Linked DNA regions of Homo sapiens: region 2 is linked to region 1. Evidence: fine-mapped expression QTL. A gene starts in region 1. The other region holds a variant in brackets. All regions are shown on one strand. Distances are between the middles of the regions. Region 1 holds the start of EIF2S1 (eukaryotic translation initiation factor 2 subunit alpha). Region 2 overlaps PALS1 (protein associated with LIN7 1, MAGUK p55 family member).

Region 1 (11,349 bases):
ATCAGAAGCCCCAATACCAAAGTCAAGCAGAAACTGACATTTCTGTTCTTGCTGCCATATGCCAGATACAATTTAATAATGAAAAAAGTGGAGCCCAGTTCGAGGATGTAGAAGTAAGACCCTGTCTCAAAAAAAAAAAAAAAAAAAAAAAAAAAAAAAGACTAGAAATAAAATGTCATACCATGCAGTAGTACATGCTACAATAAAATTAAAATAAGGAATTATGACAGAAGCAAACATGGTGTTCACTTTAGATTGGGTGATCAGGAACAGCCTCTCTTAAGAGACTAGAACAGCCAAAGGAGCCAGTTATAAGTTCCGGGGAAAGAGTATTTCAGGCAGGAAAAAGAGCTAATGAAAAGTACCTGGAGGACCTTAGGAAGAATGCTCTAAATAAGGTAAGTGGTACAGTGGCTTATGTCTATAATCAGCACTTTGGGAGGCTAAGGTGGGTAGATTGCTTGAGTTCAAGACCAGCCTGGGAAACAAGGTGAAACCCTGTCTCTACAAAAAAAAAAAAATATCAAAATTACCTGGGCATGGTAGGGCACACCGGTAATCCCATATACAAAGAAGGCTAAGGTGAGAGGACTGATTGAGCCCAGGAGGTTGAGGCAGTGAGCTGTGATCATGCCACTGCACTGCAGCCTGGACAACAGAGCAAGACTCGGTCTCAAAAAAACAAGTGTTTGGGTAATAAAATTCAACAATAAGGTTGTATAACCTAGACACAGTATAACCTAGACACAGTGATTTAAGGGGATATAATTTCATATGACTGGTGTTTTAAAATCGCATGTACTAATAAACTTTTTTGGCCAGGTGCAGTGGCTCACACCTGTAATACCAACACTTTGGGAGGCCGAGGCAGGTGGATAACTTGAGGTCAGGAGTTCGAGACCACCCTGGCCAACATAGTGAAACCCCATCTCTACCAAAAAATACAAAAATTAGCTGGGTATGGTGCTGCATCCCTGTGGTCCCAGCTACTCAGGAGTCTGAGGCACAAAAATCACTTGAACCTGGCAGGCAGAGGTTGCAGTGAGCCAAGATCGGGTCACTGCACTCCAGCCTGGGCAACAGAGGGAAAACCTGCCTCAAAAAAACAAAAACAAAAAAAAAAAAACAAAAACAAACAAACACCATTTGGCCAAATTCTTAAATTATACTGGAATCTTTTACCATAGGGCTAAGATCACTAAGACAATTCTATAGCTGAAAGGGACTTTAGACATTAACTTAAAGATTAGAAAAATGAGGCTTAGAAAAGTAAAACAACTTTCTCAAAGTTACTCAGTGAAGAAAAGGCAGGGCAGGGACTTGAACCAGACTTTTGATTCCACTGACTTTCCCAATGCTCAAACTAAGGCTCCAACCTACGTTCACTGTACCCCAAACATGTGCCTCCCCTTAAAGAGAACAATTATCACTGGCTGACTCTGCACTGACTGGTCTCACAAGAGGTCTTATCAAGTGAAGGTCGTTTAGTTTCCAGCCTGAGAAGGAGCTATCCATCTCAATGTGTGCATTTAACATAATGTATTGTTGATAGTAAATACTAGAACTTGGGCTCAAAGAGCTGGATCAAATTTAAGTCAAATTGTAGTACTGCATATTCCAGCCAGTTTATAGTAAAAGGTAAACTGGTTGATAAAATTGAATTTACCATGTTAATTTTATTTTCCTCCTAGGGAATGGCATCTTTGTGAAATGGGCAATTTTAATTCCTGAAACTCTAAGAGCAGCGTGCACACTTACAGCTAATATGTAGCAGAACCTGGATTTAGTGGACTTCTGTTGACTCCAAATTTTTCATGCGTCTTTTACTTCCACTCTACAATTGTTTTTGCTTTCTCTGGTACGAAAGTGGGTGAAAGTAACATCACAGAATAATACTGTTGAATGGAAATGTCTGTGAAACAAGCTGCCAGTATATTTTCTAGCCTATGGCTTTTAAAACTTGCTCCTTTACATGTTTCAGAGCTGCTCAGTCCTACTCAAAAAGTTTGACCTTTAGCTAGGATGATGACTTTTCTTCCAGCTGAATCAAAGACATCTGACTACATGACAAAAAGCCTGCTGCCAGCCATGGGGAAAATATTTAGAGAAGAGATTATTTCCTGCACCTGATTTTCCTCTCAATCAGCAAGCTGAGAGCTTTCAAATAGTAGTTTCACCTTCATGAGCCTATCATTTTCTTACCTAAGCCCAAAGATGTCTATTTTTGCCTCTTAGTCTCAAAGTAAAAGTTTCAAAGTAAAAACAAAAAAGTTATTCTGACTGCTGTCAAAGATAAACCCAGCCAGACATTCGTTAAAGTAGTGAAAACAGATTTTATTCAGTAAACCACTGATAGTAGGGGAAAGGGCTGAGCTCAATTCTCATTTGTGCAGAGGTGACTGGCCATTTTAAAAAAGAGAGTAAGGGAGTGGCAGGGAGCCAGCCGCAAGAAGAGTCAGAGAAGAGAAACCTTAAAGTGTTGGTCAGTGTAAACGCCATACTACCTGGCAATTAGTAAGTTACTATTCTATCCTCTCACACAGACTGGGAGACAAAGCCCCTATCCCTCCTGATGATTACGTTTCAAAGAAATGGCTCTCAAAGATACTTGAAGGGACACTTCAGAGTTGGAAGAGATACATATTAACAATTGTAAGCCTGTTTCGTAAATGCTCTAAAAAGGGAACGAGAGGGGTCTATCAATTAGGTGTTGACTAGAACAAACAGTAAATTCTCCCCCTAGCTTTGAGCTTTTTCAGGCAGGCATTTTAATGGCGGGGGCGGCGGGGGGCGGCCTGGGGTCACCCTAGGGGCAGGCCTTACATTGCTAGAAGATAAACTAGTGTCGATGTCTTTCAGTGCAGAAGTTTTGACTGAGTCATCACGTCCTAGGAGTTCTGCAGTTGTCACTACCTCGGGATAGTCCTCATCTTTATTTCCCCACAACTAGCTTGCTGCCTACTTAGTGCAAACAGCTATTAGAAAGTCAACAGGTGAAGGTAAAAAATTTAAAAACTTCATTTCATTAAGAGCTATTTAGTCACCGGGCAGAAAGAAATCTGGGCTTCAGGTTTGAATATAACTTTTATTTTAAGCATCCTCAGATTCTCTCAAAGGACAGAATGAGGAAAAACAACAAAACACCCCCACAGAGATAGGACCACAATAAAAGGGTCTAAATGTCAGGGTCAAAACTGATTTTCTGCTTCCTCACTGAAAAGAAAAAGGGAAAGCCAGGCGCGGTGGCTCCCATCTATAATCTCAGCCGCCAGGGAGGCTGAGGCCGGAGGATCACTTGAGCCCAGGGGTTTGAGGCTGCTGTGAGCTCTGATCATACCACTGCACCCCAGCCTGGGAGACCCTGTCTCTTATTAAAACAAACAAACAACAAACTAAATAAAAATAAACAGGATGAGGAGGAGAAAGGGAGCAAGTTGTTAGGCACATTTGAGAAAACGTCAAAATTTTCCTTACAAACTAGCCAAACACCTACAGTGATATGCCATTTTCCTGACAAAGAATTCAGGCCCCAAAAGAAAGGCAGCCCACAACTGAGCGTATTCCCAAGCATGAGTTCTTTCAAGAAATATTTTTTTGTGGACCTTCTATGGATTAAGACACTCTTTCATCCTGGAGAGAGCCCACAGTCTAGTGGGAGAGAAAGACACATAAACAAATATCTACTTTACAGCGTGATGACCGGTATTAACACAGGTCTGAACAAGGTGCAGCGGTGAGAGAGCAAAAGCAGTGCCTCAGAAACACAGGGATATCCTCTCACAGCAGGTGACATTTGGCGGGATCTTGGAAAATGAGTAAGGGGATCCAAGATCGAATCCGAGGGCTATGCTAGGGCGATTCGATTCCATCCCCACTTTGGCTTAGGGACCTCTTCTATATCCTCAGTAAACTTCCCTTCTCAGAGCATTTATTAAAACCTCCTTGGCCTTTCCAGACGAATGTCTGGCTACGTAAACTGTGAGCTCTGTAGGGCAGAGGTGGCGACGGTTCAGTTATATAAATCCAGTGCCCGGCTCAATAAGGGTATGTGGAATGGATGAATCCATTAATGAATAAAGACAGCAGACCTCCACAAAAGCCCGCCGGCCGGGCGCCTTTTCCTACCGGCTGGGATCGCTTCGTCCAGCCTGATTCACTCAGGAGGAATGCGCGAAGAGGCCGTCAGGAAGCCTCGCCCTAGACTCAAGAAAAGAACCTGGGAAAAGCTCAGGATCCTCCCAGGAAACAAGGACCCTCACTGTGGCCCAGGGTCTGAAGGGACCGCGCTCCGGGTTCCTAAACCTGTGAAAGCGGCTTATCCCATTCCTTTACTTACATTCGCGAGGGAAAGATTTCAATTCGGTCTTTGCCCGACATTCTGACGATAACTTTTCGGCTCGGGTCCCCGGCCGGGCAACCGAGGCTGCAATAGCTCCAGAACTGGCCTCCACAGTGTCTTCCTCTACGGGAGTCAGCTGGTTGTGTCACTTGACCCCTCTTGTTGCTAAGAGGCAGCAGGGACACCCATTTTCACTTCCGCTTCCGGTTGTCACAGGCGACGAAGGGGGAGGACAGAACAGAGGCGTTGCCCGGATGTCGAGGCGCGCGCACCGCGGAACCACCCCTCAATTCCGGTTCGCCTCCCAACCCCTCCCCATCCAGCTTCCCTGCGGCTGCGCAATACGCGGCACGCGCCAGGCCAAAGACTAGGAGCGAAGCGTGCACGCCTTGTCTTTCTCCACCTTTCGTCTTTGGTCACAGCGCCATCTCATGGTTAGCTGAAACTTTGAAAGAGGATTCATTCTTCAGAGGCAAGGAATCGGAGTCCTATGTCTTTCTCGCGCCTTGAAGGTTACTTAGCTAAAGCTAAGATAGCGAGAAACAGTACTTTTCAGGTCCTTCCATGATCTACATTCGTCCTTGTTCTCGGAGGACCCAGACTCTATGGTTAATGATGAAGAGGGGCCTCTATTCGTTCAGCGCTTGCGCATGCGAGGAGGTTCCGCATGCGCGGTGGAGTGAGCGAAGCGCACGCTGAGGAGGATCGGCGGCCGGTGAGGGGGAAGCAAGTCTGGTCTCTGTGATTGAAGAAGTCGGCTCTGGGCTCCAGTGCGGGAATCACACACATACCTCAGGTGACTAATCCCAAGCTCGGTTTCTCCAGGAACTCACTTTGGTTTGTGTCCAGTGACATGGGTGTTCGAGAGCGGGTAGGCCCCGGGCTAATACCTCCCTTTCCCGTCCCTGCGCGGGAAGTGGCTGGACAGCACCGCCACCACCCGCGCTGTCGTGGGCCTCCTCGCCGGCTCCGTGTAGGTCATCCTGTGTTCCAGAGGCATCGTTGTTCGAGCAGAGGAATCTCGTGAAGGAAAGTGGGCCGAGTGGATTGTACAGCCTCTACAATATGCCGAAAGTGAGAATGCCATGACGATGGGGCGGTCTCAGGAGAACGCTGTGACACCGTAACTCTTAACCCCGGCTCAGGACGCTGAGCACTTTGCTTTTTCCAGGCTTGAGAATTCCATCTTTTCTTCCGCCCCAACAGCTCTACCAAAAATTTCCCCTGCGTCTCAGTGGAAACCAAACTGGCCTCTTACCTGAGAAACCTGTGGGACGGGCACCGTGTTGGAAAGAGCGGGGTCCGAGTAGTTTTTCATCTGATAATTGAATGAGTCACCCCTTGAACCAAAACTAAATGAGACTTGAGTTTATTACTGTTACTATCAGTTTGTCGTATTTTGGCGACAATGAGAATAGAACTGTGTTAAGCATATGTTAGGTTAACTATGTTAGTTAAGCATAACTAAAACCTAAGATAAGGATATATTTTCGGGTTAAATACACAGTCATGCTGAGGTCTCTTTATCCTCAAAACTTAGGCTTTTTAAATTTTTATTAAGCAAAAAACATGGTTTCTTCGAGAAAAAGTATAGCAGAGAAGTCTTTATTTCCCCTCAATTGAGTTGTTATTCAAGGAACAATCTCTGTCAATAGTTTGGGGGTGACTTGTACAGAACTTTGCTACCTATTCTTAGTTCATCTGGTGCCAAAAGATGTAGTTGTCTCATGCACAGTAATGTTTGTAGAGATTCGGTGATAACTTTCTTTTTCAACTATAATGATGAAATAAAAGCTTTACTTATGTAGCACTCCTATACCAAGAACTAGCATTCAGAGAGCATTCCTAATACGTGTTAGATCCAAATTAGAATTATCACGAGAGTTGTCCCCATCACATAATATATTTTGGAAAGGAATGTGAACTTCTATATCCATTATAGCAGTTTGACCATGCACTGTTTTGAGAAAGAAGTCCTACCTACCATTTGTCATGCAAAATAACTGACTATGCAGGGTATTTGAAATTAGCCTGGAGTTTGGTTGATATATTTTGAAAGGTGGCTGATACTTTTTACATCAGAACACATAAGAGTATTATAGCATGTTGTGATATTGAGGTTCTGTGGGTTAAAGACATTCTGGATTTGATGTCGGATTACTTGAGTTTAGCTCCTACGCTAGTACTTATTAAGCATTTGTTCTTAAGGAAGTATTATAATTTAGTATTTCTGTTCCACCTTTCCTGTTCATTGCTTCACTGTGCCCTTTCATAGTACTTTGTATTGTAATTATTTGCTTGCTAGTTTGTTTCCCACTCTATACTTAATTACTTAGGTAAGAGTCTTTTTTTTTTTTCTTTTTTCTTTTTTCTTTTTTTTTTTGAGACAGAGTCTCTGTTGCCCAGGCTGGAGTGTAGTGGCACGATCTCAGCTCACTGTAGCCTCTGCCCCTGGGTTCAAGGGATTCTCCTGCCTCAGCCACTATAGTAGTGGGATTACAGGTGCCTGCCACCACACCCAGCTAATTTTGGTATTTTTAGTAGAAATGGGGTTTCACCATGTTGACCAGGCTGGCCTCGAACTCCTGGTTTCAAGTGATCCACCCGCCTCGGCCTCCCAAAGTGCTGGGATTACAGGTGTGAGCCACTGCGCCTGGCCTGGTAAGAGTCTTTCTTGTTGTATCATTAGTGCTTAGTACATAGTAGCTACTGAAAAAAAAATTAACAAATTATTATATTACAAAATGGAAATACCTTCTTTTTCTTTCAATATTTTATGTTTGACTAGCACATAATGGTTTTCAAAATGTTTTTACGTATACATGTGATACCCTCAGTAAACCTGTGATGTACATGGCACAGATGAGAAACTACAGTTCAAAGGATGTTATCTTTCCCAAGCAGCCACTTCTAGTAAGTAGCAGAGCAAGGACTGGAACACAAGGCTAGAGTTGTTCCCCGAGTTTACTATGTTAATTGCCTGATTTGACACTTCTTGAGGACCAAATAAAATAAGAATGCTGTGAAAAAGATAAAGAGGTGAAGTCACCTAGTGTGACTTCGATATTGCGGAATGATTTTTTTAAGTTAAAAAAAAAATTTAAGTTATTAGCATTTCATTAGGCAATATGTTCAAAAATTGTCAACCAATATGCAGGTTTTTGTGGTATGGATTCTTTTTGTACTTAACTACTATCTATCTTTACTATGAATAACATACCATCAACAGTATTCCTTTACTTACCCTTTATGTTGCAAAGAGACTTGTGCCTCCTGAAGAAATAGTATTCATAGTCATATCCCTTCAGGATTCTCTTACATGATTGCCCATGTTTTTTAACCATCAAATTAAGCCTTGCTTCCCCTAAAAGCATCACCTTTACTGTTTGGAGAAGCTTGGTAAGTAAATGTGGTTTTCACTGGTCAAATGTCTTGCAACTGTTCCATACATTTCTGTAACATAGTTTATTTTTATGCCCAATTTGAAACTTTTTAGCTCTCAAATTTGAGAGCTTTACATACACATATTCAACAACAGTTTCCCCACCCCCACCCTCGAAAAGCCCTGTTTAAAAACGAAACAAACAGTCAGCTGTTTCTTGGTGGGTAAGGCCATTGAATGTCTACTTCTCTTTATTTGCTAAATCCCTATTTTGTAGGGATTTTGTATTCCCTACAAAGAAATACATCTCTGCTACTGTCATTAATATGCTGCTCTTTGTTGTCAAACAGATGAGTACTAATAGTTTGCACTTATTGGTGTTATGTACTCTGGCACTGAATATATATTAATGTTGCTTTTTAAGTAAAATGTTTCTAATTATAATATATTTATGAATAGTTTTGAGAGAATATAGTCTTACTGATAAGAGGACAGACTCTGGATCCAGACTTCATGGATTCAAATCCTGACTCATCACCTGTTAGCAGTATGTGAAAGAACAAGTAACTTAACCTGTGCTTCAGTTTTTTAATCTATAAAATGGGGAGAACTAGGGAGAAAGTTGTACCACAAGGAGATAGGCAATGGCCAGATCATATAGGATTCTGTAGGTAGTGGAAAGATACATAAGTCAGTGGGAAGCCACTGAGAAGATATAGGCAGGTGCCAATTAATAAGTTATTATATGAATTTTCACAAGGTTTTCTTAGGCCTTTAAGTTCTGTTACTACCTACGTTTTGAGCAGTGACAACAGTGAAGGTTAACAGAAAAACATGAAAATCATCAGCCATGATTAGTTTGAGAGCTTCCTTTTTTAAATATGCTTCTACCCAGGCTATGATTTCAGGCTTGTGGATCATAAAAGGAGTAGTGCTGAAAGTAGGTTGGGTGGATCAAAGGGAATAATTGTAAATATCTTTAATGCTTGGAGGTTAAGAGAAACTTGAACTTTGTAGTAATGGAGATTAAAGCTATTCTCAAGATTAGGTATACCTATTCAATAAAAGAAAGGAATATTTGGGAGTATTGGGGATAAGAGAAGCTAGACATTGTGAATTCAAGGAAAAAGAATTATGAGAGGAGGATGCATTTTAGTTTATTTTGTGATTAAAATTTTTTTAGTTTTTGTTGTTTTGACATGTGACACTGTAATTTTGGCTATAATAAATGACAGAATGTATCATTTGGTATATTGGTTAGGGTTTAGGTAGAAAATTTTTTCCTTTATATAGTGAGTGGTAGCGTATACAATGTTTGCTCACTTCGGCAAAGAGTAGCTTTAGTTTTCTGATTAGTTATAATAGTGATGCTTCCCATCATTTGATATGCCTTAAAGTAGTATTTTACTCTTGAGGTATTCCTTTAATCCTTAGGTCTTGGAGTACTTTATAGATGGTCATTATTTTTTATGATTCCTCTGAAACTAAAGGCAGAGAATCACCCAAGCATTACAAAAATGTTGAGCAAAATAAAAATTAAAGCTTGGTTCCTGAACATTATCTGTTTTCTGGTACCACTTAAGAAGTTTCAAAGGATGAGAAGACTAAGACTAATAACTATTTTTTTCTTCATCTTTTCTTTCAGTGGCAGGATGTGGAAATTGATTTTTTTTTTATTTTCACCTTAACTGAATACTTACTTAATTCTTTTGTTTAAATTGCAGAATGCCGGGTCTAAGTTGTAGATTTTATCAACACAAATTTCCTGAGGTGGAAGATGTAGTGATGGTGAATGTCAGATCCATTGCTGAAATGGGGGCTTATGTCAGCTTGCTGGAATACAACAACATTGAAGGCATGATTCTTCTTAGTGAATTATCCAGAAGGCGTATCCGTTCTATCAACAAACTCATCCGAATTGGCAGGAATGAGTGTGTGGTTGTCATTAGGGTGGACAAAGAAAAAGGTAAGTGAGAAAAATATCTGTAATATAAATTTCAGATTTAAAATGGTTTATTTAAAAATACATTTTTTGTAAATTGCAAGCTGCAGCTTAAAAAAAAAAGCTCCTTTTATACTTAAACCTTTTACATACAAAGTTGTTAGAAAAGGATGCCAATTAGCTATCTAAGCAAGATCTCTTAATAGTAGTTTAATTAGTACATCCTAGGATTTTATGGATCAGATAACTTGAATTTTATTTCTAGTGTTTATCAGGATCTTGATAATTGACTCATGGTAACCAAACTTAGAGACAGGTAAGTCAGAGTACTAGTTCATTTACATTGGTAGGCCTGAATATGTTGGATGCCTTTTTCTTGATTTAAAGCTAAAATAGTAATGAGATCACTGGGTAAGCATGAAAATGGGGCAAATGGATTTTAGGGATCTTTTATATAAGCTTTGAAAAAGCAATATACTATGCGTGTATATACACACCTGAAATCCAACATTGTATATCTTGCTGGTAATTAGAATGTTTGCATCTACCAGATCTCGTGGTATCTTTCAGACAGTTTTGGATGAGCATTCATTTTTTACTTATTGGATGCCTTTTCTGGGCCCCATGTAAATCATCACCTTTGTGAATACTCTTTTTTTAAACATGGTGTACAATACCATTACGTAGGTTTTAGTTTCAGCCATCTTACTATAATTTGTTAGGTGTTAGTTTTAGGTCATTAGTTACCATCATGTCCGAAAGGCTTCATATCAGTCACCTTGATTCAACTTACCCTTCTGAATCTCCTCAGCCGTCTGGTTTACTGATACTTTCTCACTTCTGCAAGTGATTAATTTTATACATACTGACATTTTAATTTTTTTTATTATAGCCTTAGATGATACATAGATTTTGAGGATGTCTTATGCCTTAGGTAGTGACTGCTACTTAGCACATGGATTGTTTTAAATGTTTTGCTATGACTTAGCTATAGCCCCGCCCAAAATTATTAAACTACTTTGAGACTATTTGTTAAACTTAGGTAAGTCTTCACATCACTGTCCTAGTAGTACCTAAAGTAGTGTCTAATCTTGTACTTTTTTTTTTTTTTTTTAAGAATTGGGGTCTTGCTCTGTCACCCAGGCTGCAGTGTAGTGGTATGATCATAGGTCGCTGCAGCCTTGAACTCCTGTGTTCAAGTGTTCCTCAAGCAGTCCTCCCAAGTAGCTGGAACTACAGGCATGTGCCACCCTGCCCAGCTAACTTTCTTTGTAGAGATGGGGTCTTGCTGTGTTGCCCAGGCTAGTCTTGAACTGGGCTCAAGCGATTCTCCTGCCTTGGCCTCACAAAGTACTGGGATTACAGGTGTGAGCCACTGTGCTCAGCCTTCTTTTTCTATTGTATAAAATATACACAAAAGGAGGAATCAAATATGTTTTTAGTTGCAATCAGAAAAAATATGGAATGGCATACTTGCTTACGTACAGTAGATACATGTAAAGATATTTCCATAGCATTTGTTTGTATGGCATTAACTAAAACCAGGAAATGACCAAAATGGGGACTGGTTAAATAAATCAGTACAAATGCGTGCAATGCAATTTTATGCAGAATGAGATCTGAATATTTTGATATGGAAGATCTCCAGGATAGGATGAGAAAAAGCAAAGTGCAAAAGAGCCTGTA
Region 2 (11,349 bases), 50 kb before region 1:
ATAACTTACTTATCCTTTAGTGGTTATTTAACCCCCAACTTTCATTATTGATTAAGAATAAAAGGCTGGTTTAATCTGAAGACCAAAGGAATATAGGTTCATGGTGAACAATCTCTGGAACTACTTAACTGGAAAATGAAGTAGCTTAAAAAGGAAGAAAGTGGGAGAAAGAGCAAAATGCCACATCTATCCCTTTTAAAATGGAGCTTTTTCTGTTCTTTTTACTTGGAGTCTCACTCTTGTCACCGAGGCAAGCAGTGGCACCATCTGGGCTCACTGCAACCTCCGCCTCCCAGAGTCAAGCAGTTCTCCTGCTTCAGCCTCCCTAGTAGCTGAGACTACAAGTGCATGCCACCACATCCAGCTAATTTTTGTATTTTTAGCAGAGATGGGGTTTCACTATGTTGGCCATGCTGGTCTCGAACTCCTGACCTCAGGTGATCTGCCCGCCTTGGCCTCCCAAAGTGCTGGGATTACAGGCATGAGCCACCGAACCCGGCCTATTTTCATATTTAAAGTAGGGATCTTTTCAGAATAGAGTGATGTGCAGTATTTTTCTTTTCCTTCTTTTCTCTTTTGTTTTTTGTTTTTTTTGAGACAGAGTCTTGCTCTGTCGCCCAGGCTGGAGTACAGTGGTGCGATCTTGGCTCACTGTAACCTCTGCCTCCTGTGTTCAAGCATTCTCCTGACTCAGCCTCCCAAGTAGCTGGGATTACAGGCGCCCGCCACCATGCCTGGCTGAATTTGTGTGTGTGTGTGTGTGTGTGTTTGTGTATTTTTAGTAGAGACAGAGTTTCACCATGTTGGCCAGGCTGGTCTTGAACTCCTGACCTCTGATGATCCGCCCACCTTGGCCTCCCAAGTGCTGGGATTACAGGCATGAGCCACCATGCCCAGCCCCTTCTTTTCTCTTTTTATTATGAATAACTCTCAATTGCAATATATCTTGCCAAGTTTTGTCAGACCTAACTGGCTTAAAATGAACTGCTATTATTAAAGCTCATTGAGGCTGTCCAGAAAGGAAACAGTAATAGGAAATCATAATCTTGGTTGACATATGCAGAATAATTATCTATGGAATTAATAATCTAAAGAAATTAGAACCAATTTATTGAGTATCATTATGGTACAGGTCAGCATCTGTTGATAGCAGCAGCAGCAGATATCTTCCTGATTTATGTTTTGTGATGTTAGAAATGTGTTTAAGACAGATATACAAAATAAGTGTTATCTGAAACCCCTATATAATGACTTGTTGAATTATGATGTCATGTATGGCAATAATAAGCTGTGTCAGAAGTGCTCTCTTGAGTTCTTAAATTTCTTTTGTATCACACATAGCAATCAGTGGCTGCTCTTTCAGTAGCAGAGGGCAAGAGTCTTGGCACCTCTGTATTTCACTTCCTGAGTAACTGGCACATTTGATCTAGGAAATGCATACATTATTCAAACGTACAGTTTCCTTCTCTCGGCCTTTTTAAAAAAAGGAAGGATTGGATTTCCCAGACTAGTTTGTAAAACTTTAGATTATTCTATACTATAATAATATGTAGGGAGGGCATAATAGACTTTTATCTGAATGGGACTTTTTCATTTAGTCTAATGCCATAATCTAACAAGGAGTGTATTTAAATGAAGAAGGATCACATCGCTTATTAGTTACAGAATATGTACCAGAAAATTAACAGATTATTGATTGTTTAATACATATAAGCTATTATTATGATTATGTACTCTGTGCCAGGCACTACAGAGATAACTGTGTTGTAAAGAAAAGTTGAGAACCACTGCTATCAAATACATTGCTTTCCCATTATAGGTATAAAAATGTATTAATAAAGACATTTATTTCTTGGTGGATGTGGGGAAAGGAGAAATTCTAGTGTTGTGTGGAGATACTTAAAAACTTGCTTGGTGCTATAAAGGCTTTCCTTGACTCACTTTCACTATTTTCTCTTCTACAATGAACTTTAAGAGTTAAAGATAAATCTGCGATAGTAAGAGATACAGAAATAAAAATTACAAAGAAAAATATTTTGGTAGCAGAGATGTGGAATCAACCTAAATGCCCATCGATGATAGATTCGATAAAGAAAATGTGGTATATATACACCATGGAATACGAATGCAGCCATAAAAAAATGAGATCATATCCTTTGCAGGGACATGGATGGAGTTGGAGGCCATTGTCCTTAGCAAACTAACACAGGAACAGAAAACCAAAAACCACATGTTCTCTTACATGTGGGAGCTAAATGATGAGAACACGTGGACACATAAAGGGGAACAACACACACTAGGGTCTTTCAGAGGGTAGAGGGCAGGGGGAGGGAGAGGATCAGGAAAAGTAACTAATGGGTACTAGGCTTAATACCTGGGTGATGAAATAATCTGTACAACAAACCCCCAACACACAAGTTTACCTATGTAACAAACCTGCAGTTGGATCCCTGAACTTAACAGTTTAAAAAAAAAAAAAGTCAGTGTAAAAAGTATAAAAGCCAACCTAATACTTAGACAATAGAAAAGGGAAAAACCAAACTTCCTTTTTTTTTTTTTTCTTTTTTTTCTCTTTGATTTTGAGGGCGTCACCAATGTGATAGCCTTACCTTCATGAGTACTAACCTTTCCATTAAGCTAATCCCAAAGTTGTCTCCCAAGTACACTGTCCAGGTGGTTGTGGCAAATTTATACTTTTCCAAAGGAGTGTCCATTGAGCAAGTGGAATATAGATCCTGAGTTTTAGATCAGCACTCTCCAAATATTTTTTTCTTTTTCTTTTTTTTTTTTTTTTGGAGACAGAGTTTCACTCTGTTGTCCAGGCTGGAGTGCAATGGTGCCATCTTGGCTCACTGCAACCTCCGCCTCCTGGGTTCAAGTGATTCTCCCGCCTCAGCCTCCCAAGTAGCTGGGATTACAGCTACCCTGTACCGTGTACAAGTACCATCTACTGTGCCACCAGCTAATTTTGTTTTATACCTTTATCAATTAAAAAACATTGAACATGTCCCCTCCCATATTGTATATATATGTACTACTCTACTTACTATCCCAAATTACAATATAGGACAAGTTTTATTAATAAGTAATTCTAATAGCCTTCTTGATTGGTTGAAAAACAATATTTTGGAACATTGGATCCCTAAAAAACATGTAAATAAACTGATGAATCATTATCCCTGTACCCTATCCCCATTTCATCATTACGACTTCAAATGTGAACAGCTTATAGATATTAAAAAAAGGAAAAAGAAAATGTTGGGCTGGAAGATAATTGCGTCCAAACAGTTCTACAATTTGAAATGTAAACAGAAGATTTTGTTTTGTTCAGAAGCCAAATACTGTTTTGATCAGATATACTGTTCTGATATTATTATAGCATTATGAGGCCCTGGACCTTTCCTATGAGGGTCAGCTTATCTCCTTCATTTTAAAGGGGCTTTTTTTGTTGTATGAGAAACAAAATAATTTTGACACTAGCAGGAAAGATTGGTGGAGATAACTTCTAGAACTGGTAAGAATTAATCAGTGGAATATATGGATAAAAGTCATATAGTATCTGTTAAGGCAATACCCAGACTTTAACTCATTCAAATCATTAATTTTTCAGATGTGAAATAAATTTTCCTTAGGAAAAATTAATAAGAGCCTTTTCCTCTTAATTTTAGGAAAGTAAGAGCTTTTTCTCTTAATTTTAGGGTATATTTTAGATGGGACTAGAGAAACTTGTCACATAAGTAAAGCATGTTCTCTTCCCAGCCTACACAAAGAGGGGCCCTGTTCCAAGCCAGTTAAATTAGAATAGTTAAGGGATGAGAACTGCATAGGCAAGAGTACATGGAAAAGCATCTCTGGGTGATTTTGTTGGCCTATGGCAATGGTCATAAATGTAGATATTCCCTCCTCACGGGTCTTAATTTCTCTCAGGGTAGTAGTTCCCTAAGATTGCTGTACCTAATAATTACCCAAGGAACCTGATTAAAATTCAGAGTCTGAGAGTCTGAGGTGCGGCATGAGAATTCATCATTTTAATAAACATCCTAGGCAGGTGATCTGAGCAAAAACACTTTGAAAAACAACATACTGGGTAGGCTTTCAGAAAGTGATTTGATAAAATTGTCAATCAAGATTGACAAGTACTTTGATTTGATCTTTGAAAAATCTGGTAAAATTGATCTCTCCACTACAAGTGATGCCAAAAATTCCATTTTTAGATTCTCAAGGTTTTTTTTTTTTGGCAAAAAAGTAACAAACAGATTCTAGAAGTATTATTGATAGGATGGTGCTCAAGCACTTTTTTTTTTTTAAAGAAAACATATTTCTAGATAAAACTACATAGGAGATTTTTCCTCATGCCAAGATTATAAATTTGTATAATCTTTTTGCTCAATCTCTTAACTGTGTTTTGATTCACTGCTATCCCACACAACTTTCTAAAATTCATTTTTAGTGCTGACTGAGAAAGATTTCAAGATTTTAATAAAAACTGTTTTTTCACATCTAGAATGAGGTTCTTTAGGGCACTTTGCATTTAGGATGAGCCACAACACTTTCAAATTTGGTGTGTTATCTTAACTATATTTGGTACAAGATTATATACTATGCTATTCCATGTATATGAATTAATATACAGGGGAAAATAATCAGTGTTTCTAGAAATCAGGATGATGTTTATCCTTGGAGGGGATGGGATGGGTAGTGATGGAAAGAGACCAGGTGGGGCCTCTGAGGTGTTGGTGATATGATGGTTGTTGATTTGGATGCTAGTTATACAGGTCTGTTTAGTTAGTGAAAATTCACTATGCTATACACTTATGATAATGTGTATTTTTTGTGTATCAAAAGTTACTCCCAAAAGGCATAATAACATTTAAGTTTTGCTGGTAGCTGTTTAACTTTTATATCTTTGTATTTTTAACCAGATCATTTTTTAACCTTAGTTTCAGTTTGTATATTAGGACTCAGCTTTATTTCCTATTTATAGAAGTTAATAAAATATTCTTTGAAATTAAAAAATATTCTTTAATGACAAGCCAAAAATTTTTTAAAAAGCCATTTATCTGTCTATCTATCTATCTATGTCTATCTTTGTCACTTAGCATTTTTTCCAATTTCATATAGTCTGTCATCGACAGTACTCATTTTAGTCAGTGTCTCAAGTGCTTAAAGAGCGCTTAAAAAGTGCCCCTTTTGGGGTAGACTGGTATTACTTTTATTACATATAACCTCAATTATGGTGAGAGTAAAACACTTAAAGCTAAGGCCAGGCGTGGTGGCTCGTGTCTGTAATCCCAGCACTTTGGGAGGCCAAGGCAGGTGGATCACCTGAGGTCAGGAGTTCAAGACCAGTGTGGCCAACTGGCGAAATCCTGTTTCTACTAAACATACAAAAATTAGCTGGGCGTTGTGGTGAGTGCCTGTAATCCCAGCTACTCGGGAGGCTCAGACAGGAGAATCACTTGAACCCGGGAGATGGAGTTTGCAGTGAGCCAAGATTGTGCCACTGAACTCCAGCCTGGGCAACAGAGCGAGACTCCGTCTCAAAAAAAAAAAAAAAAAAAAGCCAAAGCCAAATAATATTTGGATAGAAATGGACCTTGAATTCTTAGACTGTTTGTCTTTTGCTTGGTTCGTTGAGCCTGAACTTGGAATTTAACCTATGTGTGACAGAAATGCTCACTGCAAATATGTGGGCAGAAATGCTCATTACAAATTTGTGTGAGATCTCATTAGATGAAGTAGATTTCTTATAGATTTTGGAAGTGTCACATGCAACTTGCCCAGGTTAGGTAAAAATTAGACATGGGGAAATTAAAGAGAATTTTAATTCCTTTATAACTTCTTAGAAGTAAGAATAGTCTGTCATATCTTACAGAGGCATATTGGAAGAAATGGCATACAGAATAGCTTATAAAGTTCATGAGAGTTACTACCTGCCCTTAATGCTAAGTAGAATAGCACAATTCTTTGATTTATTCTGATTTCCAAAAACACATTATTAGCAAAAATTATAACTTGTACCGTTAATAATATGTCAAAGCCTACATAGCATACAAATAAGAATTGATTATAAACTTGATTTAGTTAATTTTAGTCGTTGATAGTGTGCTTGTTTCATGAACATATCCTTTAAAAGAAACGCCAAGAGAGTTTAAGGCATAGTTGGACTGACAGTGGGGTCAAGAGACAATGACAGCCCCAGGGAAGCTCATATTTACCTGCTTAGATGAAGAGATGTGGTAAGGTAAAGTGTACCTTTTCTAGTAGCTGTGGTTTGGAAATTGCATACCTTATTGCAGAGTCATTGTTTTCACAGGTCAGGATTCTATTCTATTTCTGCTTCTCTCAAGCTTTTGAGGCACCTTGTACCTCAGCTTGTAGCTGCGAACAGTGTTGTGGATATCCTTGTACATATCTGCA[A/G]GTCAACAGAGAAGATAACAGATCAGCCTGAAAAAATATTGCCCAAAAACACTGTTACTTAACACCCTTCTTCCAACTACAATTTCTTTGCACTGATGAAAAATTGTGGCCAAGTGCAGTGGCTCACACCTATAATCCCACCACTTTGGGAGGCTGAGGGAGAAGGATCGCTTGAGGCTAGAAATTTGAGATTATCCTGGACAACATACTGAGATGCTGTCTCTATTAAATTTTTTTAAAATTAAAAAATAATAAAAAATTTGTAGCATTTAAATTGTATTCATATGAAACATTTTATATTGCCATTTATTGTTGTTTTTGCCCTTTTTATCTTTTAGATCCATGTAAAAGCTCATTTTGACTATGACCCCTCAGATGACCCTTATGTTCCATGTCGAGAGTTAGGTCTGTCTTTTCAAAAAGGTGATATACTTCATGTGATCAGTCAAGAAGATCCAAACTGGTGGCAGGCCTACAGGGAAGGGGACGAAGATAATCAACCTCTAGCCGGGCTTGTTCCAGGTAAGACACAATATGGTAGAAAGTACATAATATTAAAAGAACATTGAAAATGCAAGCCTTCACAAAGAAAAACTCACTCTTTCATGCCTCTATTTAATAAAGTATTCCAGTTACTTTTTCGTGTAGTTGGGTTTTTATGTTGTACCTGCAGCGTAAGTATATTAAATAGAATGTGGCCAATTCTTTGGCCTTTAGAATGGAATTATGTATAACTTCAGCCAATCCCATATTGTAGTACATTTCCTGTATACATATTAAGATGACCGTATTATCGAGGCAATACAACTTGTATTATACTATATACTATATACTATGACATTAATTGGAGCATCAACATGATTTTTGAGAAGGAAAGATGCATAACTTTATAAGGAGTCAGGAAAAGTAACATCATAGAATTTATTGTACCAAACGTGATCTTAGGGCAGAAACAGGATGCTCCAAATTTTTTATTGATGAAACTATCCCTAACTTAGACTAAACTAAAACTTTAGCTTACATTATAGATTAAGATTATTAAGGGGACATGTTTCTGAGAGTTAAGATGATACAAAATAGAACAAAGTACAGTCATGCATCACTTAACGACAGGGATAAGTTCTGAGAAATGTGCCATTAGGTGATTTCATTGTTGTGCAAACATCACTGAGTGTATTTACACAAACCTAGATGATATAGCCTGCTGTACAGCTAGGCTATGTGGTATAGCCTATTCCTCCAACCACCATCATATATATGGTTGGTTGTTGACTGAAATGTTGTTATGCAGTGCATGACTGTATGTAGATATAATTATTTTCTACAAATGGCTCTTACAGTTCCCAGGATGGCAGTAGAATAAAGAAAGGAGAGCAGAACTAAGGGAAGTTTAATAAGCTATCGGAGAAGGCAAAGGAATACATACAGGATGATAAAAATAGGGATATAGAGTAAAGGGATAATAATTCATCCATTTATTTGTTAATAAATGCTGTTATGTCTGCACCATGTAAAGCACTTTGCCTGGTGCTGAGATAAACTTCGCTTACATACTTTACTTGAAAGCATATCCATTAACACTTATGTATATTTTTTTCTTCTGTGTCCCCTACTTTATAATATTTTCATGATATTGTCTCTGTTATAATTCTTTCTACTGTATATGCTCAGTTTATAAACTTCTTGATGTCAGAGGCCAAGTCTTATTTGTTTTAAATCCAGATAATATATGTTAAATTAATGAATAAAAGATGATTTTAAAAGTTCTCAGAAAACAAACAAAAATTAAAAAAAAAAAAAATAGTTCTGCCAGAACTGCTGTTTCTGAATTAGACCTTTCAATGCTTTGCTGTAATGTTTTTCTGGCCTTATCTTTTATCTACAACCTTTTTTAGCGATCATCCCTCCTACTCACACCAGAAGATTTTAAGCATAACAGATTTGGCTATAGACTTAGCCTTACACTGGATTTGACAACAAGCAATAGTTTAGGGGAAAAGAAGAAAAGGAGGGCATGAAAAAAAAGACTGAGAAATATTGACTATGAGATACATAGTAGGAACAGAGGAAGTTGTCCAAAGATTTTAGAATAAGTTATAAGGAATCTCTTTTATCTCTGTAACTAAGCCAAAGAGACTTTTCTGGGTACAAGAGATTTCAACATAATATTTACATTTATTCTTTTTGAGTATAAGGTCACAGAAAGCTTCAAATTTCTCACTTTAAAACTCAGAGGCTAGAAACAGATTTTGTCTATATCAGTCATATTTTAAGGAAGGAGGAATGGACTTCTTACATTTATTTTAGAGTATGATGCTAAAACCCGTGATTCTTCAGAGTAACAGTTACAGGACATTTCTCTAGAATCTTGGAGTGTTGGGTAGCCATTGTGGTTCTGCCTCAGGCTTGTGCCAAATATCAGTATGGTGTCTTCCTACCATGCCGAACTTTAGCCCATAAATGTTTAGAACTAGTGTTTGTTGATAGATTGATTTTCTGAAAGTATATAGATTCCAATGATGACATTTCTAAGTCTTTTTATAAGACTAAAGATCTGCCTTAGAGTTTGACGATGGCTTTCCATCAGAATTAGACAGATTTTTTTAAGAGGTCATTATGAGGCTGGCCCTGGTGGCTCACACCTGTAATCCCAGCACTTTGGGAGGCTGAGGTGGGAGGATTGCTTGAGCCCAGGAGTTTGAGACTAGCCTGGGCCACATAGTGGCATAGCTGACATAATGAGACTTTGTCTCTACAAAAAATTTAAAAATTAGCTGGGCATGGTGGTGCGTACCTGTAGTCCCAGCTATTCAGGAGGCTGAGGTGGAAGGATTGCATGAGGCTGGAAGGTTGAGGCTGCAGTGAGCTTTGATCACACCAGTGTAACAGAGCAGTCTCAGAAAAAGAAAGAAAATCATTTCCATCTCTCATTAATTTCTGCCTCTATTTCAGAATAGCCTATAGTTCATACTACAAAAAGTGCCACAGAAGTACATCATTGTAATGTTTTACATTTTTAATATGTAAATGATTAAAATTACTTTGTTCTTGATTTTTAAAAATCGGTTACTTATTTTTAATTTTTTTTTTTTTTTTTTTTTTTTTTGAGACAAAATCTCGCTCTGTCTCCCAGGCTGGAGTGCAGTGGCATGATCTCAGCTCACTGCAAGCTCCGCCTCCCGGGCTCATGCCCTTCTTCTCTCTCAGTCTGCTGAGCAGCTGGGACTACAGGTGCCCACCACCACGCCCAGCTGATGTTTTGTATTTTTAGTAGAGATGGGGTTTCACCGTGTTAGCCAGGATGGTCTTGATCTCCTGACCTCGTGATCTGCCCACCTTGGCCTCTCAAAGTGTTGGGATTACAGGCATAAGCCACTGCACCCGACCCCTTTAAATTTTAATACTCTTAAAATTTTCCTTCTAGTAATAGTTACTTGTACTAAGAATACAGTCTTGGCCGTGCACAGTGGCTCATGCCCCTAATCCTGGCACTTTGGGAGGCCAAGCAGGAGGATCACCTGAGATTAGGAGTTTAAGACCAGCCTGGCCAACATGGTGAAACCGAGCCTCTACTAAAAATACAACCATTAGCTGGGCATGGTGGCGGGCCCCTGTAATCCCAGCTGCTCGGGAGGCTGAGGCATGCGAATCCCTTGAACCTGGAAGGCGGAGGTTGCGGTGAGCCAAGATTGCGCCACTGCACTCCAGCCTGGGTGACAGAGCGAGACTTCGTCTCAAAAGATAACCAGGCTTCCTTTAATGCTTCTTATGTGTATGGAAGTCAGTATTAATCTTTTTGTTAGTACACTTACGAAATGCACTAAGTTCTACAGATTATCCCCACCTATGTAGAATTTGCTTATTGATTTTTAAGAATCTCTGGCTTTACACTGAAAAAAAGTAGATTTAAAAATAAAATAAAAAAGTGGAACCTCAACGTAATTCAGAATCTTCTAAGTGAAGCCACTTGTATCCTATAGGAAAAGACATATTTGATTTAAAGTAGAAGTCGGAAAAGAAAACCTCTTTCAAGGTCAGGAACCTTGAAAGCCTCCTATATTAAAATATTAATTTTGTAAGGAAAAGCACGTTTTCCATTTATATAATTGGTAACTTAAGGGTGGAAATAAAAAATGGCTAACACATATACATACACAAAAGAAGAGGAATTGAGAATAATGCATGCAAGGGAATATACTGAATGGTTTCTTGGAATTGAATATGGAATTGAATATGTGATGAATGCGCACATGTTGTTTTGGAAAAGTTAATTCCTAGAATTGATATCCTTAATTTGAGATAATTCTAAAGGACCTAGAACCATTGTAAGATCCAGGATAGTACTTTTCCACAAAGTAAATGCTCAATGAAACCTTTTAAAAAGTTGAACTATTAAATTTTTAAATATTTTAGTAGATGATATGTATTCTAATAATACATATGGGATTGATTGAGCAGAGTTAATATTTTAAAAATTTGGAGGCTTACACATCATAGCTGACATTACTCCTGTGTTGGCAAAAGGATTTGGAAGGGAATATAAGTGAAGAGATATGTCTAGTGTTTTCCCTTCTTGATTAAAAAAAAAATTCTTATCCTTTTATCTTAAATATTTTACCCTTCTTTTTCTTTCTGCTATTAAGGGAAAAGCTTTCAGCAGCAAAGGGAAGCCATGAAACAAACCATAGAAGAAGATAAGGAGCCAGAAAAATCAGGTTAGACACTTGTATTTGACATAAGTAAATGGTTTCTTGGGTCTTCATCTGGAGCCATGTGTGAATCTGCATATTAGAACCGTGAAGAAGTACTCAGGGAAAGAGTGATACAAGAGGCAAAACTGATTATCTCAGAACTGTAAAGAAAGGATAAGATTTAAGTATTAAAGATTATCTGTCTATACTGTGTAGTTAATTGAAAATTGTAAATGCT

The links.
Region 2: its variant is fine-mapped to the expression of EIF2S1 in tibial artery (GTEx, PIP 0.98).

The regions. Positions count from the first base shown.
Region 1 is chr14:67,355,322-67,366,670 of GRCh38, forward strand. EIF2S1 (eukaryotic translation initiation factor 2 subunit alpha) reads left to right here and starts at 5,007. Exons shown (of 8, transcript NM_004094.5): 1 at 5,007-5,135; 2 at 9,446-9,687. The coding sequence starts at 9,447. ATP6V1D (ATPase H+ transporting V1 subunit D) reads right to left here and starts at 4,483. Exons shown (of 9, transcript NM_015994.4): 1 at 4,337-4,483. The coding sequence starts at 4,377. It also overlaps a transcript of GPHN not described here. RefSeq lists enhancers at 3,594-4,380, 4,223-4,442, 4,463-5,262.
Region 2 is chr14:67,305,769-67,317,117 of GRCh38, forward strand. PALS1 (protein associated with LIN7 1, MAGUK p55 family member) reads left to right here. Exons shown (of 15, transcript NM_022474.4): 9 at 6,759-6,942; 10 at 11,064-11,135. It also overlaps a transcript of GPHN not described here. Among named protein-coding and RNA genes, the nearest start is that of ATP6V1D, 48 kb to the right of the region's middle. The variant A/G (reference allele first, on the strand shown) is at 6,421.